3 separate regions of the Homo sapiens genome follow, and regions 1 and 3 are each linked to region 2. The links come from fine-mapping of genetic effects on gene expression. A gene starts in region 2. Each other region holds a variant in brackets. All regions are shown on one strand. Distances are from middle to middle. Region 1 holds the start of GUCA1A (guanylate cyclase activator 1A). Region 2 holds the start of MRPS10 (mitochondrial ribosomal protein S10). Region 3 overlaps GUCA1B (guanylate cyclase activator 1B).

The links. PIP is the estimated chance that this variant, and not a neighbour inherited with it, causes the effect.
Region 1: its variant is fine-mapped to the expression of MRPS10 in whole blood (TOPMed, PIP 0.95).
Region 3: its variant is fine-mapped to the expression of MRPS10 in monocytes after LPS (Fairfax 2014, PIP 0.95). The same link has a PIP of 0.9 or more in CD4 T cells, skin and subcutaneous fat.

Annotation. Positions count from the first base shown.
Region 1 is chr6:42,170,144-42,178,003 of GRCh38, forward strand. GUCA1ANB-GUCA1A (GUCA1ANB-GUCA1A readthrough) reads left to right here. Exons shown (of 5, transcript NM_001319062.2): 2 at 3,190-3,671. The coding sequence starts at 3,471. GUCA1A (guanylate cyclase activator 1A) reads left to right here and starts at 3,221. Exons shown (of 4, transcript NM_001384910.1): 1 at 3,221-3,671. The coding sequence starts at 3,471. The variant T/C (reference allele first, on the strand shown) is at 4,176.
Region 2 is chr6:42,213,149-42,221,008 of GRCh38, forward strand. MRPS10 (mitochondrial ribosomal protein S10) reads right to left here and starts at 4,713. Exons shown (of 7, transcript NM_018141.4): 1 at 4,654-4,713; 2 at 1,132-1,196; 3 at 972-1,044. The coding sequence starts at 4,701. RefSeq lists enhancers at 2,825-3,427, 3,428-4,029, 4,601-4,880.
Region 3 is chr6:42,189,171-42,194,501 of GRCh38, forward strand. All of the region lies in intron 1 of GUCA1B (guanylate cyclase activator 1B), which reads right to left. Among named protein-coding and RNA genes, the nearest start is that of GUCA1B, 3.1 kb to the right of the region's middle. The variant CA/C (reference allele first, on the strand shown) is at 2,868.

The DNA of each region.
Region 1 (7,860 bases), 43 kb before region 2:
CCACAATATGCCATCTGCAAGATGGAGAACCAGGGAAGCCAGTAGCATGGCTCAGTTCAAGCCCAAAGGGTTCAGAGCCAAGGAAACTGATGGTGTAACTCTGGGTCTGAAGCTGAAGGACTGAGAACGTGAGAGTGGGGAGGGGTTGCTACTGGTGCAAGTCCTGGAGTCCAAGGGCAGGAGAAGAAGAGTGTCCCAGCTCCAGGACAGAGAGAGAGAGAGAGAGGGAGAGAATTCACCTTTCCCCTGCCTTTTTCTTCTGTCCAGGCCTAAGCCAATTGGATGGTGCCCACCCACATAGGCTGAAGGCAGATTCTCCTTACTTAGTCCATGAATTCAAATGCCAGTCTCTTTGGCAAGCACCCTCACAGAAACACCCAGAAATAAAGCTTTACCAGCTTGTTGGGTAATCCCTTCATCCAGTCCTAAAATTAACTGTCACAACACATAAGCAAAATGTCAGTATGCTGTGGGAGGAAGATATTTGAGAGAGATTTGGGAAGGCTTCACAGAGGAGGTGGCATTTGTACTCACACATGAAGAGTGAGAGGGATTTAAATAGAAAGGGAAAGATGAGCGGCTGCCTTGTCCCCAACCTCTTCATTTCCCAATCTTGGGCCTGAGAGTCCTCGGCAAGGACACATTTTCCAGCTGGGCCCCAAGCAAGTTCACAGAAGGAGTCCTTCTCTCCCCGTCCCTTAACTTGTTGTGGAGAAGCTGACTGAAGCAGGGAGAACCCAGCTCCCCACCCCCATATACCTTCCGTCAATCAATTCATGTGGAGTAGAGGTAAAACAGTCCCAGTTTGTCTCTTTTTCAAAAATAACTATCCTCTTTGATTTTGTGAGCAACATATGTTCATTATGAACAATTTTTTTTTTTTTTTTTGAGATGGAGTCTCTCTCTGTCGCCCAGGCTGGAGTGCAATGGCGTAGTCTCGGCTCACTGCAAACTCCGCCTCCCAGGTTGAAGTGATTCTCCTGCCTCGGCCTCCCAAGTAGCTGGAATTACAGGCGCCCACCACCATGCCTGGCTAATTTTTGTATTTTTAGTACAGATGGGGTTTTACCATGTTGGCCAGGCTGGTCTCGAACTCCTGACCTTGTGATCCACCCGCCTCAGCCTCCCAAAGTGCCGGGATTACAGGCGTGAGCCTGGATCTGGTAAGGCTTTAACAAAGGCCTCCACCTTCCCTAGGGCCTGACTACAGCTGGTAGGTGGCCTGTGTGAGGCAGGTTGGATGTCTGTTCCTACACATAGCCCTTCTGGCCGTCCAGGGCCCAGAGTGAATGGGGCTAAAGGGACAAGAGCACGATTGGCTCTAACCCAGGGATGCTGCTGTGTCCAAGATGCAGTATAAGTGCACCTAGATTGTAGTGAACAGCACATCAGACATGCTGCTGTAATAGATACAAAATCATAACATCATAGCCAAGATTTATGGGGCACTTACTCTGGGGCAGACCTTGTTCTAAATGCTTTTCTTATATTAACTCACATACTCTTTTTTTTTTTTTTTTTTGAGATAGGGTCTCGCTTTGTCATTCAGGCTGGAGTGCAGTGGTGCGATCTTGGCTCACTGCAACCTCCGCCTCCTGGGTTCAAGCGATTCTCCTGCCTCAGCCTCCCGAGTAGCTGGGATTACAGGAGTGTGCACCATCACGCCTGGCTAATTTATGTATTTTTAATAGAGATGAGGTTTCACCATGTTGGCCAGGCTGGTCTCGTACTCCTGGCCTCAAGTGATCCACCCGCCTCGGCCTCCCAAAATGTTGGGATTACAGGTGTGAGCCACCGTGCCCAGCCCCACTTACTCCCCTTAACAGCCCTATCAGATGGGCGCCATTATTCCTATTTTAAGAATGAGGAAACTGGGGCCCAGAGAGGTTAAGTTACTTGCTCAAGGTCACCCAGCCAGTAATGTAAGCAAGAAACAAGCTTGTATTGTTTTCAGCCACTGAGATTTTAGAGTGGTTTGTTACTGTAGCATAACCTAGCCCATTCTGAAATATGTATGCACATGTATTTGATATATGTTATATGTTGTATAAATTGTATATTTATATAAATCTATTTACATGTAATTATATATTATTTATATAAATCATATAAATTGTGTATCAGTGCACAACTTGACCAAGTGTCCAAGGCCCTGGTGGGGAAAGCAGAAATATGGGCAGTGGTTCCCTCTAGATGAGTTAGGAGACCTGGGTGTGCCCCATATGTAAAGGAGGAAGGCAAACAAGAGAAAAAGACAGGGCAGGGCAAGCGCTGGCTTTAAGCTTTCCTGGCAGCATCCAGGTTAAGTGCACCTGCACCCAAATGCTGGTTCCATAAATGAGCCAGCTTTTAAGTGTGTGGCTAGGGAGTACGCATCCCACCAGGCATCAGAGAAAGCTGTTGCTGCATAGACAGGCCCCCAGGCTTGGCCTGGGAGCTTTCCAGGACCAGCAGGTAGCAGCTCACCCATGCACCTGTGTGCCTGCACTCTCACACTCACACATACCCCAGGGCACCAGGCGCACACTCCATGTCCCCTGCCCTGTGCCCCTAGTAGGTGATGGTGATGATGTGAGGCTCAGAATTAGATGGAAGGATGAATTCAGGGCTCTCAAGAAGGGAGAGATGCAACCTTCAGGAACATGAGAGTGTGGCCAGAACAGGATGAGTGTGTACGAGTGTGTGTATGTGTGTGCACGTCTCTGTGTACTGGTGCAGGCTAATGTAGGAGGGGGTTCTCTCTGGCTGTTCAAGGCTTATCTTGGAAGCCCACAGACTCTGCATCCACCCAGGTGCCCTCAAATGTTAGCACACTCATGGTATGATTGGACCCCCTCAGTTGTGATGGCCAAGTGCAGTGCACAGCCTGGATAACTGTACACAGCAGCCCTGTCAAGAGCCCACAGTTGGCCATCTCTGGACAAGAAGCCAGCTCTATCTCATATATACCTCAATTCCATGATTGAAGGCAGAATCCAAAACCACTGTGAATCCACTCAAACCAGGAGAAGAAGGTCACAAAGGTCATAGGATCAGAGCAGCTTCTAGCTGACACCCACTCCGTGGTGGTAAGAAGGGATTAGAAGATTGCAAACTGGGTTAAAAAATCCTCTCACCTACAGCTCAAGGCTGTAATCCTAAGGACTCTGCTTCTCTAAGCCTTGTTCTATTTTCAACTCTTTTCTCCAGGGTACAGTCTCCCCTGGGGCTGCAAGGATTTAGTGGAGACTCTTAACACCAGTTCTCTGGCATCTGTGAGTTTGAGTGTGGGCCATCATCTTCTTCCTTCTGCTCTCTCCCTCTCCACATTTCCCGGTACCATCTGATCCATCAGGCCCTTCTTTGCTCAGGCCTGAAGGACTCAGGCCTGTGAGAGAGGACGGCCCCGTTGTCGGCCAAGACACCTTTGGGCGAGGAGCAGCGAACAGGGCCTGTCCATCTCAGACGTCAGCCCCCTGAAGGCCTGAGCAATGGGCAACGTGATGGAGGGAAAGTCAGTGGAGGAGCTGAGCAGCACCGAGTGCCACCAGTGGTACAAGAAGTTCATGACTGAGTGCCCCTCTGGCCAACTCACCCTCTATGAGTTCCGCCAGTTCTTCGGCCTCAAGAACCTGAGCCCGTCGGCCAGCCAGTACGTGGAACAGATGTTTGAGACTTTTGACTTCAACAAGGTGAGCAGGGGCCCAGTGGCAGGGAGGGGAAGTGCTGGAGGGACCCCTCTGGAAGCCTGACCAGCTGGGGGTGAGGAAGAGCAGAGAGGAGCATAGAAGTGTCCGCTGGGGAGCAACTTCATTTATACAGTCATTTGTTTATTTGATAGGTGGGTTTTTGACACTAGGGTTTCAACGGATCTAATGTTTGTGCTTTAATGAGCACCAACTGTGAATCAGGCACTGGGGGGTTAGAAATGTATCAGACATTGTCCCTGCCCTCACTTTCTAGGGCAAGACAGAGAGGCCCACACATTAGTGTAATCCGAGGCTGAATCCAATGGCTTCCTCCACCTCTGCCACAGGCATATCTTGGTTTACTCCAAAACGAGTGTAAACACTTCCAAGATGGTCATTGAACACCTGCGATGTGCTGGTCCTATACGTGGTGCTTTTGCAAACACCCTTTGAAGCTCCCAAGGATGTGGGCAGAGGGGCAGAGAGCAGGGAGCAAGATGATGATTC[T/C]CTAGCCTCACTGTCTGGCATGGGCAGGCCACTTATAATATTCTGCGGACATGAGGACTGGAGACAGACAGGGTTGCCTGGTCCCTGGAGAACCCAGAATGCTCCCAACTTCAAAATACCCAGTGACCTCATATCACCTTTTCTCAAGTGAGCCTGAAGGTCCACACCGTGGTCAAATTGTGTCTCCTCAGTAGCCACCTGGACGCATTAGGTAAGGACTTCCTAATTGATAAGCTAGAGGGGTCACTGAAAGGTGAGTTTGGGACTGTGGGTTTGGGTCCCTAGCTTTCATCCGCTGGGTGACCTTGAGCCCATCATTTCCCCTCTCAGTCCCAGTATATTCATGATGCCGTGGATGTTGGGAGCATTAGTTAAGATGTTTGTTGGTTTTCATAGTAAATCTTCCATTCATTTGGAACTATTTGGTCAAGACATAGTTGTGGAAGAGCCCAAATCTGCAAACGTGGCTCCCCACCCTGTGGCCCCTCACTTGAAAAGTGAGGATGCAATGAGGCGCTGCCGCGTGTCCTCTGCAGACCCGGGAGAGGTTCCTTCCCTCGCTGCCCAGAAGGTCCAGGCACCATCATGGGTGGGGCTTCTTGGGAAAGCTGGGGCTCAGTGGCTATTTAAAACTCACTAATATTTAAGGATAAGGGACCAAAGTAGATTACGGGCTTTGAGTGTCAACCTCAGGTGTAGTATGAGGGAGCCCAAGGGCTTTCCCGAAGCGGGAGCAGGTGAGCAGAGTCCAGAGCCTGTGTACAGAGACTGGGAGGGATGGCATCATCACATTCAACACTCAAAATGCTCCCGAAGAAGGAATAACTCCTGAACAGGAGGGGAAGGACAAATGGATGGTTGAGCCTCACACCTTACCCCCAAACAGCGACATATCTCATCTTCTCACCTGCTAAGAAAACCCTTTGGGTTAAGACATGTCTGCAGAAGGACCCTTACAGTCACACATATGACGCCGGTGGGGGTGGGGGAGGGCAACCCTGGGGCACATCGACCCTGTATTTGCCTAATCATGTCTTTTTTTTTTTTTTTTTTTTTTTTTGAGATGGAGTCTCGCTCTGTCGCCCAGACTGGAGTGCAGTGGCGTGATCTCGGCTCACTGCAACCTCCACCTCCTGGGCTCAAGCGATTCTTCTGCCTCACTCAGCCTCTCAAGTAGCTGGGATTACAGGCACCCACAACCATGCCTGGCTAATTTTTGTATTTTTAGTAGAGATGGGGTTTCACTATGTTGGCCAGGCCGGTCTCAAACTCTTGACCTCAGGTGATCCGCCCACCTCGGCCTCCCATAGTGCTGGGATTACAGGCGTGAGCCACCACGCTGAGCCAACCATGTCTTAATGTGTGTCCCATGCGAGCACCACCTGTACTGTACCAAACCTGACCCTTGTCTTTCCACTGAAAGTAAATCAACCCCTTGTTTCTAGGCAGTCTGGCCTCCTCCCTTATTCCACACACACCCCCGCCTTAGGGGTTTTGTGCTGCCTGGGACCCTCTCTGCCCCCAGAATTCTGCTCGGCTTACACCTTCCTCTGCTGCAAGTCTCTGCTTAGAAGTCTCCTCACTAACCCCTGCCGTGATCTTCTGGTTTAAACTCTGTTTAAAACTGGGACTGGTTCCCACCTCTGCATTTCCTAGTCCCACCTTTCCCCGCAAGCACCTGTCGTCTTCCAATACCAGATTTAAATAACATTTCACCATTACGTTTATCGCCTGTCTCCCCCTGCTGGAATGTGAGCTCCATGTGGGCAGGGATTTTTGTCTTGTTCACTGTTGAATCCCTGGTTCCTAGAACAGTGCCTGGATTGTGGCAGGTGCTTAATAATATTCATTGTATGAGTGAATGAATATATGAGAAATCAGGAATTTAATGGCTAGTTATTTTATAATATACATCAATTTAACTCTGCAAATATTAAAATGAAGAGTGACTTTGTAACACCCAACCTGCCTCATCTACACCCATGGCACACAATCACACTTTGCATAATACTGTCTTGACCCATTGTCATCAGCATGGAGCAGTTTAGCAGATTGGCTAGGAGATGGAACACAGGATTGGGAAGTTTTTGTTGTTGTTGTTGTTTTGTTTTTTGTTGTTGTTGTTGTTTTTTGAGATGGAGTTTTGCTCTTGTCACCCAGGCTGGAGTGCAATGGCACGATCTCGGCTCACTGCAACCTCCACCTCCTGGGTTCAAGTGATTCTTCTGCCTCAGCCTCCTGAGTAGCTGGGATTACAGGTGCCCACCACCACGCCTGGCTAATTTTTGTATTTTTAGTAGAGACAGGTTTTCACCACATTGGCCAGGCTGGTCTCGAACTCCTGACCTCAGGTGATCCACCTGCCTCGGCCTCCCAAAGTGCTGGGATTACAGGTGTGAGCCACTGCACCTGTCCAGAAGTTTTGATACAGAGAGGAGTTAAACAGGGACAGGCAAATGACAGCACACAGGCCTGTTTTTGTAAATGAAGTTTTATTAGAACTCACCACATCTATTTATTTACGTAGAGAATTGTCTATGGCTGCTTTCACGTAAAATGACAGAGGGTGTTTGGCTGCAAAGCTGCATATTTACTCTTTGGCTCTTTACAGAAAAAGTTTGCCATTTTCTAATAAAAACTAAAAAGTTTTTAGTGCAAGTGCCAGCCCTTGCACTAAAAAATGGTTGTATCTTTGGGTATTGCACCAGATGTGCAGGGCTGGGGAGTACAGAGTGTGACTGGGGAGTGAAACCTGGGGGACAGGCCATTTGCTTTGCTTACTTCAAATGTTTGTCTGGGCTTGGGTTTGTCTGACAATCACACAGGTGCACACAAATCAATGCAAATCTCCATCTGCATTTGAGTACTGATATAGGATGATTTAGGAGAGGCTTTGTCATTCACTAGCTGTTTGGCCTAATCTCTCTCAACTTTGGCTTTGTCATTCAAACTAGAGACAAAAATATTCACCTCTTGGGGGTGGCTTGAGATTAAATGAGTAAAATGAATAAAGCACTCAGCCTAGGAAGTCCATGGAGAGCACTAAGAAAAGTTAGTATTGCTATATATTTTCATTGAATCTAATGCATACCACAATCTTGAAAAGTGCACACTGTCATTCCATTTTATACCTGGGAATACGGAGACTCAAGGTCATGTGACTTATCCAAGGTGATTTAGATCTTTCTGGCACAAAAATCCACACCTTTTCCATTGCCCCTTTTTAGACATTAAAAAAAAAACCTGCAAAAGCAATCCAGCTCATTGTAGAAATTTCCAGCAATACAGAAAGATAAAAAATGAAGAGCAAAAGTATCCTCACCTGGTGTCCCCTCCCCCAGAGGAAACCTCTTTAGCAGTTTTCTTGCTTATTCAAGCTGTGCTGTCTAGGGGCCTCTCTGGGCTCTGTGCTGATGACAGTCCTGGGAGGTGGGTTGGGACTGAATGAGCCCACTGTGGGGTTCAGAGTGTTTAAGGCCTTCCGGGGGCCTCAGCCCCTCAGGCAGCAGGGTGAGAAACTCCCAAAAGCTCACCCAAACCACGCTCCCATCCCTGGGGGTGCAGTTCTTCCTCCTCCCACCTACGCACATGTCTCCCATTTCCCCTAACTGGAAAGGCTCATGCTTGACAATCACAGGGAAGCAGGCAGCGCTCGCTAAAACCCAGATGCCTGTGAACAGACAGC
Region 2 (7,860 bases):
AGAAATACATCCAGTACTGGCCAGGTGTGGTGGCTCATGCCTGTAATCCCAGCACTTTGGGAGGCTGAGGCAGGCAGATCACTTGAGGCCAGGAATTTGAGACCAGCCTGGCCAACATGGGAAAACCCCATTTCTACTAAGAATACAAAAATTAGCCAGGCATGGTGGTGTGTGCCTGTAATCCCAGCTAGTCGGGAGGCTAAGGCATGAGAACTACTTGAACCCAGGAGGCTGAGGTGAGGTGAGCCGAGATCATGCCACTGCACTCCAGCCTGGGTGACAGAGCGAGACTCTGTCTCAAAATAAATAAATAAATAAATATCCAATATCTATTAAGAGAAAAGTTAGAAAAGAGCAGTAAACTAGACATGTGCACAGACAAAGTGAGTACCTACAGACAAATGTCTAGAACTGTAATCCCAAACTGTTAAAGGGGGTTATTTTTGAGGGGTGGAAATGAAAGGATTTTTAAAAATTACAAGTAACACAAAAAACTGGATTGATGAAATCATAGCTTCTACAGGGTTACCAAGTTCCTTCTAGATGTTTATTATTTGTGCTAACGCATTTTCTCACTGTGAACAATAAAGCACTGTCCAGGCCCAGGCTCAATACACAAAATGAAAACAAAGACTTGAAGGCTACAAGAAAAATACTTTTCCATAACATAAATCAAGTATTCTACATCACAAATTCTGACAACTCTTCCATTATGCCAAGCTAAAAGCAAGAGACTACTAATTAACACAGTTATTTGGGGGTAAATAATTTATTCCTTTAGAACTTACTTTGATACCCTGAAGACAATATAATCCAGGGAGTTAAGAGAATATATGCGTTGTGCATTTGCCAGTATTCTAGGACAAAATTTTTTTATTCATAGAGTGTTTGGGGAAAAAAAACCCAATGAAATAATAAGGAAAACCTATTGCCAAGGTAGCTCCTTATACCAAGAAACAGGGAGTACATACCACAGGTTTGGTCAAATCCTTTGGAACATCAACGTGTAGGTTTGAAAACTGTACCCACTTCATATTGGTACTGCTATGTGTGGGGAAAAAAAGAGAAACCTAAGTAAAATAGCACAAGAACCTATTTTGTTCAATTTAGCACATCCAATTGTATACTTACAGAAGCAAGCCACCATTTTTGGCTGTATTGCCCTTAGAAGTGTTTACAGAAAAATTCCCCAATCCCTAAAGAAAAAAAAAGTAGGACATGTGTTAGAATTAAAGTCAACTACCAAACCATTCATAATTTCCACTAAAAACTAAAAGGTTACCTCATTATTTCAGACGAAGATACTGGGGTAACTAAAATGGCCAAATTAGATTGAAAAAAAAAAGAGGACAATGGTAGAGCTGATGATAAAAAAAAAAGCAGTCTCAAAATACTAGAGAATCTCTATTTTAAAGATTAGGAATAAAAACTTTTTCAAAAAAAACAATTCTCACATTTAAAAAAAGCTATGAATTATGTGGACATCAAGAAAAAATGTGACTTCATTTTCCCATTATTTTTTACAAATTAATTGTACTTCAGTATAATACTTATTTTGCCTGAATATCTTTAAGCAATAAAATATATTGTTTTTATAATTTGTTAAGAGTTGGAATAAAAATTCTGAAGTATCCCTCTTTTGATGCTTTCATACATCTTTTAAAGCATACATATTTCTTAGCTTGGCTGGGATAACTAGCTTATAATGAACTGAAATATGTGCTGTGACTTATACCCATCATTAACTACTGTGCCACATGCTACAACGAACCCACATTTCCAAATCCTTTACCATCAGCTCCCCCTGGTGGAACAAGACTTTCCAGTTTTAGGAAACAAACGATACTACTACATATAACAGCTGTTTTTTCCTTTCAACTTTTCTGAGATTTTGAAGTGTAACCTGAGAAAGTGGAAACACAATAGAATCCTTAAAAACACAATGAAGATGAAAATAAGGCCAGGTGCCGTGGCTCACACCTGTAATCCCAGCACTTTGGGAGGCCAAGGTGGGTGGATCACTTGTAGTCAGGAGTTCCAGAGCAGCCTGGCCAACATGGTGAAACCCTGTCTCTACTAAAAATACAAAAATTAGCCAGGCATGGTGGCGGTGCGGTTGTGATCCTAGTTACTTGGGAGGCTGAGGCAGGAGAATCGCTTGAACCCGGGAGGCGGAGGTCCAGGCTGGGTGACAGAGCGAGACTCCCTCTCAAAAAAAAAAAAAGAAGTTTAGCATAAGTGAAGTTTCATTAATACAAATGATTGTCACCTAAGTACGTTTTTGTTTGTTTTTTCAGGGTTTTTTTGAGACAAGGTCTCACTCTGTTATCCAGGCTGGAGTGCAGTTGCATGATCATGGCCTGGACCTCCCAGGTTCAGGTGGTCCTCCCACCCCAGTCTCCCAGATAGCTGGGACTACAGGCACGGGCCACCAGGCCCAGCTAATATTTTGTACTTTTGTAGAGATGGGGTTTCACCATATTTCCCAGGCTGGTCTTGAACTCGTGGGCTCAAGCGATCCTCCAGCCTCAGTGTCCCAAAGTGCTGGGATTTCAGGAGTGAACCACCACCTAGCCACGTTTTAAAAGCCTATTCTTAGCTTATTGTCCTTCCTCTCCTTACCCAAGATAGAGACAAATCATAACTCTATAATCTTCTTTGCACCAAAGGGGAAAAGGAAAAAGGAAATCAGGTACAACACAAAGTGGTAAGAGGTATGTGCCATTCTTCAGACAAAATTGCATAGAAAATTCCCTCCCAACAATTACACCAGTGACCCCACAATCGAGTTGTGCAAGAGGAGCAAGAATATTACACTTCTCAGTCACATTCTCCCACTATAAACCTCTGCTTTTTCTTTTCTTTTTTTTTTCTTTTCTTTTTTTTTTTTTTTTTGAGAGAGTCTTGCTCTGTCGCCCAGGCTGGAGTACAGTGGAGCATTCTCAGCTCACTGAAACCTCCGCCTCCTGGGTTCAAGCAAGTCTCCTGCCTTAGCCTCCTGAGTAGGTGGGATTACAGGGGCCCACCGCCACACTCAGCTAATTTTTGTATTTTTAGTAGAGACGGAGTTTTGCCATGTTAGCCAGGATGGTCTTGATCTCCTGATCTCGTGATCCGCCCACCTCGGCCTCCCAAAGTGTAGGGATTACAGGCGTGAGCCACCGTGCCCGGCCAAGAAGTTTTTAAATTGCATTTTTTCTTTGTATTTCTTGAGAGAGAGAGAGAGAGAGAGAGAGAGTGTGTGTGTGTGTGTGTGTGTGTGTGTTGGGGGAGTGGTGGTTTGGAAGGGAGGGCTGTCTGGGTAAATTTGTCTTAATAAAGCAGTTCAAAAATTTCAATCTCTAATACCATCTGACTTTTCTCAAGAACAGTGGTTTTCAGGCCGGGTGCGGTGGCTCAAGGCTGTAATCCCAGCACTTTGGGAGGCCGAGGCTGCCGGATCACTTGAGGTCAGGAGTTCGAGACCAGCCTGACCGACATGGTGAAACCCCGTCTCTGCTAAACATACAAATACTAGCTGGGCATGGTGACGCATGACTGTAATTCCAGCTGCTCGGGAGGCTGAGGTAGGAGAATCACTTGAACCCGGGAGGTGGAGGCTGTAGTGAGCCGAGATCGTGCCATTGCGCTCCAGCTTGGGCGACAAGAGCGAAACTCCGTCTCCAAACAAAAACAAAAACAAAAACGGTGGTCTCAAAGTGTAGTCTGAGGACGTCTGTGGGGTCTGAGACACTTTCAGGGGATCCGGGAAATCAAAACTATTTTCATAAAACCAAAACGTCATTTACAACTTTTCCACTCATTCTCTTACCAGTGTACAGTGAAGTTTTCCCGTGACAGCCTGAGGTGTGATATAGGAAAAGATTAAATACAGAAGCAGATTTGAATCTAGCTTTTATTAAGCCAGAAATTAAAGAGAGCTGCAAAAATGTAAAACATTGCTGCTCCTTACTCAGTTTGTTCAGAAAATATATTTTTCATAAAGTATTAGTTGTAACATGTAATGAGTTAGTGTTACTTTTAAATCAATATATATTCTTAAGTTTTATTTTCCAAAAAGCTAAATATAGATAGCAAAAACCCACAAAAACAAAAGCTCTCTGGAGTCCTGAACTCCGAAAGTGTAAAGTGGTCCCAAGGCCAAAAAGCAGGAGAACCGCTGCTGAAAAGTTTTTGCTCCTCCTGCAAATAACTGCGCAGAGGATATCTAACCCACTTCTCTGGCTTGAGACCTTCATCTAAATTTGGATGCCAGGAAAGCATCTCAATTTAGTTCCATGGGAAGAGTCTGATATCTTGCACCAGCTCAGCCTCTAATTTTCGCGAGGCAAATTTCCTGTCTTCTCTGAGCCTCAGTTTATTTTGCAAGCGTGAAAGGAGGGGTTTTGGAACATACGAAGTACAAAATCTTTTCCAGCTCTGACATTCTACGATTATTCTTGTTCCTATCTTTGCCTGGACTCACTAACTTATATTTAATTCCATGAGAGAATTCTGATAAAACTAGCCCCTTTCTCGTCACTTTCCTGTAAACGGCGCGAGGTGAGGGATAAATATCAGGAAAAATCCTGATGGGCAGAGCGGCTGGTGGCAGGGAAACTTAAAAGCAACTATCCCGGTCAGCCCTCCTAGTCTCCCTAGCCAATCCAGTACCTGCCAGAGGCGCCGGCACACAGCACCGAACGCTGTCCGCGCCGCCATCTTGCCGGTCCCGACCTCTCAGGATTGCTTCCGGGGTTACAGCGGCGTCCTCAGACCATAGAGTTCCGCAAAAGAAGAGAGTACATCCTCATGTTCCGGCGCTGGAACAACCATAGAGACATGAACCTGTGCTTTTTGGGGGCGGGACAGTTGGCTGGCCAGGCTGGTTTGGCTCCGGCCAGTGTCTGGATAGTTACCAAGCCCTATTAATGTTTTCACCTTTAAATTGTTGTGTGTGTATACACACACACACACACACACATTTATTTATTTACTTATTTTTTCCTTTTAGAGACTGAGTCTCACTCGGCTGCCCAGGCTGGAGTGCAGTGGCACAGTCATAGCTCACTGCAGCCTCAAACTCCTGCCTCAAGTGATCCTCCTGCCTCAGCCTCCCAAGTAGCTGGACTACAAGTGCGTGCCACCACAGCCGACTAATTTTTTGTTTTTTTTTTTAATTTTCTTGTAGAGACAGGGTCTCATTATATTGCTCTCGTTATTTTGTGGGCTGGTCTTGAATTCCTGTCCTCAAGTGATCCTCTGGCCTTGGCCTCCCAAAGGACTGAGATTACAGGCATGAACCACAAAGCCCGGACTGAAACTAGTGTATTGACACCATTTACTTCAGTACTGGAATAATGGGTGATTTATTTTCCTATTTTTGCATTTTTCAATTTTTTTTGCATTTTTCAAAATTTTAACAAAATCTATATTTAACAAGAAAAAGAAAAGTCGGCCACTACCATTGGGTCCAGTTGCCACTCAGTTACCTTATTGCAGCGGCTTTCTAATTATGGTTCTTAATCCTTTCTTCCTTCCCCACACCAATTGGAATTCCTGTGCTCCAACCATTTTGTATACCGCTGTCCTACTGATCTTTCTAAATTATTCATTTCCTTATGTTACTCTAGTATTTAGGAATTTACAATGGCTAGCTTCACTTACAACAAGCCAAAGTGTTTTGTCTAATTATTAATGTCCACCATAATTTTTTCCAAGTAAAAAGATGTATAACTGGGATTTGCTATAATAAAAACTTCTTCAGGCTGGGTGCGGTGGCTCACGCCTGTAATCCCAGCACTTTGGGAGGCTGAGGTGGGCGGATCACCTGAGGTCAGGAGTTCGAGACCAGCCTGGCCAACATGGTGAAACCCCATCTCTACTAAAAATACAAAAAATTAGTGGGGTGTCATCGTTGTGTGCCTGTAGTCCCAGCTACTCAGGAGGCTGAGGCACGAGAATTGCTTGAACCCGGGAAGTGGAGGTTGCAGTGAGGCAAGATCGTGCCACTGCACTCCAGCCTGGGAGACACAATGAGACTCTGTCTAAAAAAAAAAAAAAAAAAAGAAAAGAAAAGAAAAGGCCAGGTGCAGTGGCTCGGCTCACACCTGTAATTCCAGCACTCAGCACTTTGGGAGGCCAAGGCGGGTGGATCACCTGACGTCAGAAGTTCAAGATCAGCCTGGCCAACATGGCAAAACCCTGTCTCTACTAAAAATACAAAGTCAGGCATGGTGGTGTGCACCTGTAATCCCAGCTATTTGGGAGGCTGAGGCAGGAGAATCTCTTGAACCCGGGAGGCAGAGAGTGCAGTGAGCCGAGATTGAGATTGTACCACTGCACTCCAGTCTAGGGAACAGAGCGAGACTCCGTCTCCAAAAAAAAAACTTATTCCATTTGTGCAAATCTTTAAAAATTTATTTTTATTTTTCCTTTTACTTTCTCCTCATCTTAAAGTCTGCTTCTATAATACTATATTGTCTTTTTTGTGTGTGTGTGTGAGACAGTGTCTCGCTCTGTTGCCCAGGCTGGAGAGCACTGGCTTGATCATAGCCCACTGCAGCCTCAAACTCCTGGGGTTAAGTGATCCTCACACCACAGCCTCTGGAGTATCTAAAACTACAGGTGTTTGCGACCATTTTTTATTTTATTTTTATTGTTTTGTAGAGACAGAGACTTGCTATGTTGCCCAGGCTGGTCTCAAACTCCTGGCTTCCAGCAATCCTCTCACCTTGGCCTCCCAAAGTGCTGGTTTTACAGGTATGAGCCACTGCACTTGGCCCATTTGTTCACATTTCTAAGCTTTATTTCCCCAAAGTGCTTTCACATATGCATTTTAGCCTAATGGAAAACTCTAGCCTTATAATCAGATCTGGTTTCTAATCCCAGGCTTACCAGTTAGTTGAGTGACTTTGAGCAAGTTACTTCCTTACCCTCAGCCTCAGTTTGCTCATATGTCAAAAAAAAAAAAAAAAAAAAGATAACAGTAGTTCCTGCTTCCAATAGTTGCTTGGGAATTCAATGCAATACCAATATATGGTGTTTAGTACAATACTGCCATGTAATGATACACTATAGATGTCATCCACTATTTGTGCCATTAAGTTTCTACCTCACCTGCCTCACAAGGTTGTTGAGAAGATTAAAAATAAAAAGATCAAGTTTATGAGAATATTTTATAGCATCCAAATAAAGAACTGTACAAATATAAAGTTGTTTTTTTTTTCTCCCCACAAATAGTTATTACTACCCTATTTTGCAGGCAAGAGAACCAAAGAAGAGGCAGAATGATTTGCCCAACATCACACCTATCTAGGAGATAGAAAAGGTCTAGGAGCAGAAACCAGTTTTCCTGCCCCTCAGGCTGGCCTCTGTTTACTAGAATTCAGTCCGTGTTGAGGTGTGGCAGAGATTCCAGTGTGGCCTTGCAACAGGGTATGGAAACAGCACACTTCACCTGTGTGCACTTCTTATTTATTTATTTTTGAGACGGAGTTTCACTCTTGTTGCCCAGCCTGGAGTGCAATGGCATGACCCTGGCTCACTGCAACCTCCACCTCCTGGGTTCAAGTGATTCTCCTACCTCAGCCTCCTGAGTAGCTGGGATTACAGGCATGCGCCACCACGCCCAGCTAATTTTTGTATTTTTAGTAGAGACGGAGTTTCTCCATGTTGACCAGGCTGGTCTCAATCTCTTGACCTCCTGATCCGCCCACCTTGGCCTCCCAAAGTGCTGGGATTACAGGCTTGAGCCACCACACCCGGCCTCACCTGTGTGCCCTTCTGCTGGACTCGGTGATGCCCCATGTTGGCAGGTTGCCCAGTGCCCTTCTCAGAATCAGTCTCTCTCTCTGAATTGTGACACTTAAGGGGATTTCT
Region 3 (5,331 bases), 25 kb before region 2:
GCCTTTATTCTCTGACCTCTTCAGCCATAGTGCTCTCTCCCTCCTCATTCTAACATCCACAGCCTCTACTGTCTATTCTACACAGCTTGGGACTTTCTCTGGCATTGTCACTTAACTGTTTCCTAGATTTGTCTTGTTCTCTAGCCATGTTATATGCTCCTGGGGAAAAGAGGGGTTGACATTGCTTGGGTTTCTCCTCCATGCCTAGCACAGTGCCACTTATGGCCAGAATTGTAAGCCAATAGATATTCATAAATCAATGAGTCAATGATGGACTTGATCTGAATTTGGGACTAAGACAGTTTTGAAGGAATTAGAAAGCAGAGCCCATGTTGAAATTTTCCTCTGCATTCTCATTCACCCCAAGTCAGAGAGAGGCAGACAGGCAGTGGCTCCAGCCCTACCCACTTCTAGGTCCCAGTGGACATTACACCGAACAACAGGCCTGTGCCTCCAGCCCATCCAGGAAGGTTGGGGAGCGCAGAGCTCAGGTGCTAATTGGGCAGAGGAAGGGGGAGAGGCACAGTCTACTTCTAAGGTGACTCTCACCAGGAAGCAACAGAACCTTCTTGTAACAGAAATGCGGCAGCAATAATGATTTCTAAAACAGTAAATAAGAAAGAGGATATATTCTTGCTTTCTTCTCCAGATGTGTTTGGGGTGACAGGCTGCTGTTGCCGCTGCTGTTGGTGGCTGCAGTGGGTTAGCTGTGCTAGTGTCTCACTTACAGGTGCTCACTTATTCCAAGGTTGGGAACTCCATTCTCCAAATCAAAAATCTGAGCTATCAGATCCCCCAGGAGTGCCTGTCATTCACATGACTTTGTTATCAGAAATGACACTGATGGCCCAGAGCACTTCTGTCCCACTGGGTCAGGCCACTCAGGAGCCCCAGCCCCAGATCAAGGGGTGCCTCAGTGAACAAGGTTTGAGCAACAGGAGAAAATGGCAGAAAATGAGGGAAACAGCAAGAAGCCTAAGGAAAAACTAAGAAGAAAACAAAACGAGCTTACCTTAGTACCTGAAGTGTTCTATTCATATCTTTTATATAATTCCTATAAATATATGGTCTCCGTACTCCCCATCATATACTTATCTAATTGAGGTCAGATTATATTTATAATTTTGTTTCCTTCATTCTCATGTAACATTTTCTCATGTCTTTAAAAATTAGTTAAAATGTCAACTTCCATTTTTTTTTTTTTTTTTGGTGGGGAGGGGGTACTGAACATTCCCTTTGTTGAATATATTTCTAATATTTTCCATTAAACAATGAACTTTTTTTTTGCACGTATACCTTTTCTTATATCTCTGGTATTTCTTTTTTTAGGGTAGACACTTAGCAATGGTTGTCAGTTCTTTAAAAGGCTATTTTCTCGAGTAGTTGTTACTTATTAAGCTTACCACAAATCAATCTTGTGTTTCTTATTTAATGAGAATTAGTTATTATCCCCATTTTATGGATGAGGAGCCTGAGACCCAGAGGTTCCCAGGCCACCCAGCCAGCAAGTGGCAGAGCTTTTCCAGGCATGCATCTCCTCCAGTGCATCACGTCGGAAGAACTTGCAGTCTCCACTTAAGATCTATTTCTGTCCAGCAAATAAGCCTAGTGCTTGGGGGTGCCAAGAGAAGAAAAACAAAAACAAAACCTGAAACCACTCACAAATCCCCACTCTCTAGATCTCCAGAGTCTTCCTCATTCTTTGTCCAGAAGCTTCTATTCCTACAACATCCTCTCTCAACATGATTCAGTTTCCATGACTCCTTGCCTTATATGAGACATATTCCAGAGTGATCTCTAGACAAGTGATCTCATCTGAGAGGTTACTGGAAACCCCAGGACCATTTCTGGGAAACGTCCAGCTGGGACTAATCTCATCTGCTATGCATGGGACCTTGTCAGCTCCAATTACCCACAGAGGCCTGAGAGTGATGGAAATGGCTCTGTCTACTCAGGAATAGGATGGGCGTGTCACCGGCTCTGTGGGATTATCTGCCCTGTTTCTCCTTGAATTGGCCATATTTGTGCACCAGCCCTGACTTCAATGCATGTTATATAAGAATCCTAAATGACATCTGATCTTCACCCTCCCCTTTCTTCCATTCCAGGCGGTCATAGGGCAACCACGAGAGTTGCAAGGGAGAGTGGCAGAGACGAGGTGTTCCTACCTTTTTGTCCCCACCAAACCGGTTTCCATCACCTCACATTTTCACGTGTGAACCACATCTATAAACACTTTTGATTGGATTTGCTTTAGAAATCTCAGACCGATTGTTCCGAAATGACACTCCTTGATATAAGGGGGAATGGAGTCAGGTGTAGGTTTGGAGACAAAGACTAAGTGGGAAAGAAGGCTCAGTCCCTGAGAGAGGAACTGAAAAACACTTTCTAGGGAGGCTCTTCCTTACAGTGGAATGCCAACTAATAAATAGAGAAGGGGTGATGGGGTTAGAAAATTATCAACAGATGCCAAAGCCAGTAGAAAATTTGACTGAACAATAGGATATTTACTTAGTCTCAAGATATATCCTTACATGTTGCTTATTAATTACAAAGAAAAAAATAGTAACTTTACAATGTTGAAACATGGCAGATACCACCTTAACCAAGTGATCAAAGTTAACTACGCCAGTGATGGGACAAACTGATGTCTTGTACCGGATGGTATGATGAACCGAGGACACAACATCACATCAGTGGCAATTCTACCAATTTAGACAAACGCCAGTTGTGGGCTGTCCTACAACATAACTCAGCTGCAGTCTTCAAAAATGTCACAGTCAAATAAAAAAGAAAAGCTGAGATTAAAGATTCCAGGTTAAAGAAGACTAAGGAGATACAACAAGTAAATGCAATGTATGATCATA[CA/C]AAAAAAAAAAAAGAAAAAAAAAAAGAAAAAGGAAGGCCAGGCATGGTGGCTCATGCCTGTAATCCCAACACTTTGGGAGACCGAGGCGGGTGGATCATGAAGTCAAGAGATGGAGACAATCATGGCCAACATGGTGAAACCCCATCTCTACTAAAAATACAAAAATTAGCTGGGCATGGTGGTGCTCGCCTGTAGTCCCAGCTACTGGGGAGGCTGAGGCAGGAGAATCGCTTGAACCTGGGAGGTGGAGGTTGCAGTGAGCCAAGATCATACCACTGCACTACAGCCAGGGTGACAGAGCGAGACTCCAACTCAAAAAAAAAAAAAAAAAAAAAAAAAAAGAGAGAAAAGAAAAGAAAAGAAAAGAAAAAGGAAAAAAGAAAGAAACCTGGCCGGGTGCAGTGGCTCATGCCTGTAATTCCAGCACTCTGGGAGGCCGGGGTGGGCAAATCACTTCAGGTCAGGAGTTCGACACCAGTCTGGTCAACATGGTGAAACCCCGTTTCTACTAAAAATACAAAAATTAGCCAGGCATGGGAGTGTGCACCTGTAATCCTAGCTACTCAGGAGGATGAGTCATGAGAATTGCTTGAACTCAGGAGGTGGAGATTGCAGTGAGCTGAGATTGTGCCACTGCACTCTAGCCTGGGCAACATGGCGAGACCTCATCTCTACCAACATAAATAAATAAATAATACAAAAATTAGCAGGCATGGTGGTGCACACCTGTAATCCCAGCTACTTGAGAGGTTGAGGTGGGAGGATCCCTTGAGCCTGGGAAATCAGAGGCCGCAAAGAGCTGAAATCATGCCACTGGGTGACAGAGCGAGACTCTGTCTCAAAAACAAAAAAGAAAATACACACTGAAATACTTAGGGATAAACGGGCATGATATCTATAGCTTTCTCTTAAAAAAAGTATATGTATAAATTATGTATCATGTATATGTATATATACTTATAGGATACATTATATATATGTATGTATACAGAGAGAGGCAGAATGATAAAGTAAATGATATAAAATGTGAATAACTGGGGAAATTTGGATAAATTGCATATGGGAGTTACTTGTATCATTCTTATAACTCTTCTGTAAATTTAGAATCATAGTAAAATTAAAAAGTTATTCAAAAAGGAAAAAACATTGATGAACATCATATGCCGATTTATAAGAAGAGATGAGGTATAAGGAGTACAACTATATGCCTAGGGGCTTAATCAGCCCTTTGGATCTTGAATCATGATCGTATTGATTTTTAGATGAATCTGGGGAAGATTGATGGACTTAAATGAGTCTTATTATTTATGACCTGATATATTTGTTTACTTTTCTTACATTTTAAAAAAACATCAATTATTTTAAAAAGTCATCTTCTCTCTTTAAAAAACCTGCCTTCTAGGCAGGAGCACTTAAGACCTTGGGCAAATCGATTCATTCCCTTTTGCCCAGCTTTCTCATCATTTAATTTGGAATAACAAAAGTCTGCCCCTCCCACCCAGGGTTGCTGCTGATTCAGAGGAGACCTAAGAGAGGCGGAGCGCTGAGAAGTCCGAAACTGGCTCTGTGCCCTGTGGGGTGGTCGATGGGGTTCATCTCTAAGGAGGTTCTGTTGAATTGAAGGTGCTGACCTCACCCTCCTGTCCCGGGACAGGCACTGTGGGGACGTGCACTGACTGGTACCAGCGACAGGATGAGACCTGAAGTGGCATTCCCAGTGATTCAGCTTAGAAAGCTAAGTTCTCCACGCACTGAGGAATGGAGAACTGACACTTTCTTCAGATTAAATTGGTATTTGAGGCAAATACCAGGGCATTTGAGGTATTTGAGGTATTTGAGGATTGCCAGGGCACTGAACTGGATAACCTTAAATAATCAAGGGGTTTTTAACTGAATTGAAATTTAAAATTCAATCCCCTGGTGCATTTACAAGATGTGTTATCTTCTTAGCTGCTAGTGACATTGTGGGCTTAGAGAAACTCTAGTCTGAATGATTTAATGAAACCTTCCAGGACTTGAAGAGCTGAAAGGGGCTTTTGCAGTCATTCGCCCAGTCTCCCAATACATGCAGGAGCCTCTTCCAGCATTCTTGACAGGGAGGATCTGACCAGTCTCAGAAGAACCCCAACAAGAGGGAGCTCATAGCCCATGCTAAGATACCTTGTCTCATTTAGAACATCTCTTTTGCTCCTAGTGTTTAGAGTGACAGGGGCTCTGGCAGATGCGAAAACCCGGTCATTGGGCTGCAGAGTCTTGGTCAAAAATACACAAAGAGAGGACCTGGACTGTCTGCCAGTCGCCCTTCAGCTCTCAAGAAGAGGACACAGGGAGCATCAGCCGACAGCTAAGAGATGGAGGGAGGGAAGGAGAGACAGAGAAGATGGAAAGGGACAAAAGGAAGAGAAGAGACAGAAGGGTTTGGTGAGTGAGACAGAAAAGGTAAAGAGAGACGGAGTGGAAAG